2 separate regions of the Homo sapiens genome follow, and region 1 is linked to region 2. Evidence: fine-mapped expression QTL. A gene starts in region 2. The other region holds a variant in brackets. All regions are shown on one strand. Distances are between the middles of the regions. Region 1 has its middle 17 kb from the start of S100A2. Region 2 holds the start of CHTOP (chromatin target of PRMT1).

Evidence for each region. PIP is the estimated chance that this variant, and not a neighbour inherited with it, causes the effect. A credible set is the group of variants that fine-mapping cannot tell apart.
Region 1: its variant is the best candidate, but not a certain one, in a credible set for the expression of CHTOP in adrenal gland (GTEx, PIP 0.64).

Annotation. Positions count from the first base shown.
Region 1 is chr1:153,581,172-153,584,077 of GRCh38, reverse strand. No RefSeq gene overlaps it. Among named protein-coding and RNA genes, the nearest start is that of S100A2, 17 kb to the right of the region's middle. RefSeq lists an enhancer at 71-995. The variant A/C (reference allele first, on the strand shown) is at 1,136.
Region 2 is chr1:153,632,400-153,635,305 of GRCh38, reverse strand. CHTOP (chromatin target of PRMT1) reads right to left here and starts at 1,240. Exons shown (of 6, transcript NM_015607.4): 1 at 963-1,240. It also overlaps a transcript of S100A13 not described here. RefSeq lists a silencer at 737-816 and an enhancer at 1,157-1,266.

The sequences.
Region 1 (2,906 bases), 51 kb after region 2:
GGGGAGAATAGGTAATAGGACAATTAGCAGTCTCTACCATAAAGGTTATTTTATATATGCCACATATGGGCAGTATTTCCTTTTTCTATTTTCTGGAAATTTAAGTTTGTATGATTTTTTTTTCTTTTTTTTTTTGGCTGACTTTTGTTTTTTTTTTTTTTAAATTTATTTATTTATTTATTTTTTAATTGATCATTCTTGGGTGTTTCTCGCAGAGGGGGATTTGGCAGGGCCATAGGACAATAGTGGAGGTAAGGTCAGCAGATAAACAAGTGAACAAAGGTCTCTGGTTTTCCTAGGCAGAGGACCCTGCGGCCTTCTGCAGTGTTTGTGTCCCTGGGTACTTAAGATTAGGGAGTGGTGTTGACTCTTAATGAGCATGCTGCCTTCAAGCATCTGTTTAACAAAGCACATCTTGCACCGCCCTTAATCCATTTAACCCTGAGTGGACACAGCACATGTTTCAGAGAGCACAGGGTTGGGGGTAAGGTCACAGATCAACAGGATCCCAAGGCAGAAGAATTTTTCTTAGTACAGAACAAAATGAAAAGTCTCCCATGTCTACTTTCTACACAGACACGGCAACCATCCGATTTCTCAATCTTTTCCCCACCTTTCCGCCCTTTCTATTCCACAAAACCGCCATTGTCATCATGGCCGGTTCTCAATGAGCTGTTGGGTAGACCTCCCAGACAGGGTGGTGGCCGGGCAGAGGGGCTCCTCACTTCCCAGTAGAGGCGGCCGGGCAGAGGCACCCCTCACCTCCCGGACGGGGCGGCTGGCCGGGCGGGGGGCTGACCCCCCCCACCTCCCTCCCGGACGGGGCAGCTGGCCGGGCAGAGGGGCTCCTCACTTCCCAGTAGGGGCGGTTGGGCAGAGGCGCCCCGCACCTCCCGGACGGGGCGGCTGGCCGGGCGGAGGGCTGACCCCCCCACCTCCCTCCCGGACGGGGGTGGCTGCCGGGTGGAGACGCTCCTCACTTCCCAGACGGGGTGGCTGACGGAGGGAGGGGCTCCTCACTTCTCAGACGGGGTGGCTGCCGGGCGGAGGGACTCCTCACTTCTCAGACGGGGCGGTTGCCAGGCAGAGGGTCTCCTCACTTCTCAGACGGGGTCGCGGCCGGGCAGAGGCGCTT[A/C]TCACATCCCAGACGGGGCGGCGGGGCAGAGGCGCTTCCCACATCTCAGACGATGGGCGGCCGGGCAGAGACGCTCCTCATTTCCTAGATGGGATGGCGGCCGGGCAGAGACGCTCCTCACTTTCCAGACTGGGCAGCCAGGCAGAGGGGCTCCTCACATCCCAGACGATGGGCAGCCAGGCAGAGACGCTCCTCACTTCCCAGACGGGGTGGCGGCCGGGCAGAGGCTGCAATCTCGGCTCTTTGGGAGGCCAAGGCAGGCGGCTGGGAGGTGGTTGTAGCGAGCCGAGATCACGCCACTGCATTCCAGCCTGGGCACCATTGAGCACTGAGTGAACGAGACTCCGTCTGCAATCCCGGCGCCTCGGGAGGCCGAGGCTGGCGGATCACTCGCGGTTAGGAGCTGGAGACCAGCCCGGCCAACACAGCGAAACCCCGTCTCCACCAAAAAAATACAAAAACCAGTCAGGCGTGGCGGCGCGCGCCTGCAATCGCAGGCACTCGGCAGGCTGAGGCAGGAGAATCAGGCAGGGAGGTTGCAGTGAGCCGAGATGGCAGCAGTACAGTCCAGCTTCGGCTTGGCATCAGAGGGAGACCGTGGAAAAGGATTTTTTTTCTTATTTGGTAAACTTGTCTATGAAAACCATCAATTTTATCTTTGTTAGGTAGATTTATACTGCTAATCAATTTCTTTAATGATTATAGGTCTTCAGATTTTCTCCTTCTTAGTCAATGTTGGTCAGCTTTACATATAAATAATTTACATATATATAAAATTTACATATATATAATTTTTTTTCCTGCAAAGCTGCCTATTTCATCTAATTTAAAAAATGTCAACCTCAGCTTTAGCTGGGGGAATCCTGGTTAATCTGGTTTAAGAGTATAAGTCTTCAAAGTAATTTTGTTTTGCTTTTCCCAAGTGCCCCAAGGCCAAAACCAGTTTAGTATTACTTTTTATGTTGACTTCTTGGCTTTGGGGTTTTCTGAACCATTCCAGCCATGTAAACTAAAATCCCAAATCTGCATGAAGACAGGCCCAAGGTTAAAATTTCTCTAAGAAAACTTTCTCCATCCAGAGCCCAGGCGAAGACGTACAAGCTTCCTCGAAATCTCATTTTGCTCATGAGAGGTTTTTTCTTTCAGCCCATTCTTTCACCAAGAAAGTGGTACTTGGGGCACCTTGCTTCATGTAAGGTGGCTTTCGGATTCCCAGATACTTGCAGTTATAAGGACCCATCTCTTCACGATTGGTCCTTGAAAACTGAAGCCCCTTGTTTTCTGAGATTAGAAACCGTCCCTTCCCAAGAACAGCTGTAGCATTAACTCACGCCTAATTGGTTTTTAGTTTCCCCTTCGCTTTGGGCCTAGAAGGGTTTTCTTTACTTTAATGTGAACTTAGCTGTGAAATAAAAAAAGTATCACTGTCATGTTTTAACCAGATAGATTCTATTGCAGAAGCCCCTGTTGAAAATAAAAAAAAAAACCAAACAAACAAAAGAAAAAAAGAAAGAAAAGAAAAATAATCGATAGAAATGGAAGTCTAGCTATTTTTCCTTAACGCAATAACTTTATCAGAATATGTCCTGGCTTTGATAAGTCTGGATCATTTTCTTTTCTTAGAACATGATGTGCCTGGCTGGGAACAGTGGCTCACACCTGTAATCCCAGCACTTTGAGAGGCCAAGGTCAGTGGCGCACTTGAGCCTGGAGTTCGAGACCAGTCTGGGCAACATGAGGAAACCCTGTCTCTACAAAAAAATATTAGCTG
Region 2 (2,906 bases):
AAAATACAGACATCTGGGCCTAGATCAATTAAACCACAATCTCTGGTAATGAGGTTTGGAAATGAACCAATTGTGGGGTCGGGGGAAAGCTACCTAGGTGCTTCTAATGTGCAGCTAAAGTTGAGAACCACTGATCTACAGTGAAAATACAGGCAGGGCCGGGCGCGGTGGCTCACGCCTGTTTTCCCAGCACTTTGGGAGGCCGAGGCGGGCGGATCACCTGAGGTTGGGAGTTCGAGACCAGCTTGACCATCATGGAGAAATGTCTCTACTAAAAATACAAAATTAGCCGGGCGTGGTGGCGCATGGCTGTAATCCCAGCTACTCCGGAGGCTGAGGCAGGAGAATCGCTTGAACCCGGGAGGCGGAAGTTGTAGTGAGCTGAGATCGTGCCATTGCACTCCAGCCTGGGCAACAAGAGCGAAACTCCGTCCCCCCCCAAAAAAAAATATATATATATATGTATGTATATATATACATATATATATGCATGCCTAGTTTCAAAAGTGGCTTTCAACTCCAGAATCAAGTAGGGACTTTAACAAGAAACTGACGATCTGGGGGAGTAGGAAAGGTTTTCTAAATTCACCTGGGAATTAGCTCGCAAAGAGCCCTCCACAAAACTTAACCCTAAAGCCGCCATTAATTTCCAACATTCCTCAAAGTCTTGTACTTCTTAATCTCCCTACCATCCTCAAAGCCCTGTCAAGACTTCCACTTCTGCTCTACCCGCCAAGTTTCCTTTTTATCCTATCAAACCCCAACCTCCATCAATCCCGCCACCAGGTTCCAGTTCAGCCCCTCCCCCGCCCCTTCGCAGGGGCTCCGCCTCCTCCCCGGGGCCTCCACGCTCCAACACCGTAGCTATGTCCACATGCCACCACCCCCTTTCCGCGTCCGCCGGCCCCTTCCGCTCCTCAAGACCGCACCTCCCCCGGCTCCTTCTCACTACCGAAACTCACCGAAGGAAACAGACGCCAGTGCTCCTCCCGGGGCTGCCACCACGGCTCCGGCAGGCGGGCCGGGGACCGGCCGAACCTGAGTTGACGGTGGAGGGGCTCGGGTTAGCTAGATGGGCGGTTGGTTAGATGCGTAAGCGGTAGTATGCGAGCTCAGTTCGTTGTTGCTGGTTGGCTGTCTAGTCGGCCGATCCGTCTGCTCACCCGGCCTGCCCTTTCCTGCCTTTCGTCTGCAGCGGCCGCCAGCTCCTGCTCGGTGTCCAAAACAAAATGGCCGCCACGTCCAGTGCTTGTCTGACCGGCTAAAATGGCGTCTACGCAATTACGTCAGGCGTCAGATCCGCGCACGACTAGAGGGCGGGAAAGATTTGAGCTACGCCTGCGCAGAGGTCAGAGGCGGAGCCTTAGGGCGAAGGCGGGGCTTTCCATGCAGTGCCCCGCCCCTAGGGGCGTGGCCAATGGTCCTGTTGTTGGGGCGTGCCGGGGACTTCACGTTCCAGTAGTGGTTGCGCTGCAACCTCTTGGGGGTAGTTATTAATGTGGGCCTTAGAGGGGATTTGGGTCCCGAATTCCCTCGCCCCTCCGTTCCCTAGCCAAGGTACACCGTCTAAAAATCTTTACGCGGACTTGCCTCGTCTTCTTCCGGACAATTGGGCCTGGGGAATTTGCACTGGTTTTCCCCTCATGGCCACTCGCCCAGTCTGAGAGTTGTGAAGTGCCGTAAATGCTCCAGCCAAGGCCCAGGAGGCCAGTATTAGGAGCAAATTCCTCTCCCATCCTGCACCGGCCAACACCACCGCCCGTCCATGTTTTCCTCCTCACTTCCTCCCCTCCCCAACTTGGCCTAGATACTGTTTACTCCTTCTTGGGGTGGGGCACCTTTGCGTCCTCGATTGCGTTTCCATGTCCTCCCCCCACACCTGCCATCCGTGTTTATTTTGTTGCAGACCTACATAGGGATTTCTCTTTTCTCTCTCTGATTTGTTGTTGTTATTTTGAGACGGGGTCTGGCTCTGTTGTCCAGGCTGGAGTCAGTGGCGCAATGAATCACGGATCACTGCAGCCTTGACCTACTGGGCTCAGGTGATCCTCTCACCTCAGCCTCCCGACTCCTAGGATTATGGGCATAAGCTATGTTTCCTGCTCAATAAGGGATTTTTCTCTCTTTCTTTTTTTTTTCTTTTTGCAGATGGAGTCTCGCTGTGTCACCCAGACTGGAGTGCAGTGGTACCATCTCGGCTCACTGCAACCTCCGCCTCCCAGGTTCAAGCGATTCTCCTGCCTCAGCCTCCTGAGTAGCTGGAATTACAGGCGCGTACCACCATGCCCCGCTAATTTTTGTATTTTTAGTAGAGATGGGGTTTCACCAGGCTGGTCTCCAACTCCTGACCTCAAGTGATCTGCCCGCCTCTGTCTCCCAAAGTGCTGGGACTACAGTCGTGAGCCACTGTGCCCGGCCTCAATAAGGGATTTTTCTAATGACTATGTGCACAATACAGTGTACATATGTTTGAGGAATGAGAGAATGACACATCTGCAACCCTTCCTCTGCTCCACTGGCACGTCAAGACCCTTTCATTTTCCTTCCTGGCACTTGGGCGTGTGCGTGTGTGTATGTGTTTGTGTGTGTCTGTGTGTAAGTAATGGCCCAGCATCCTTACCCATGTGAGGGTAAGGATCGTGGTTATTTTGCTTAATGCTGGAGCCTCAGTTCCTACAGTGTTTACACATAGTACCACTTAAGTAAATGTTCGTTGATTGAAAGAAGATTCTTTCGGCCTAGCGCGGTGGCTCATGCCTGTAATCTCAGCACTTTGGGAGGCCGAGGCGGGGGGATCACGAGGTCAGGAGATCGAGACCATCCTGGCCAACATGGTGAAACCCCGTCTGTACTAAAAATACAAAAAATTAGCCGGGCGTGGTGGCAGGCGCCTGTAGTCCCAGCTG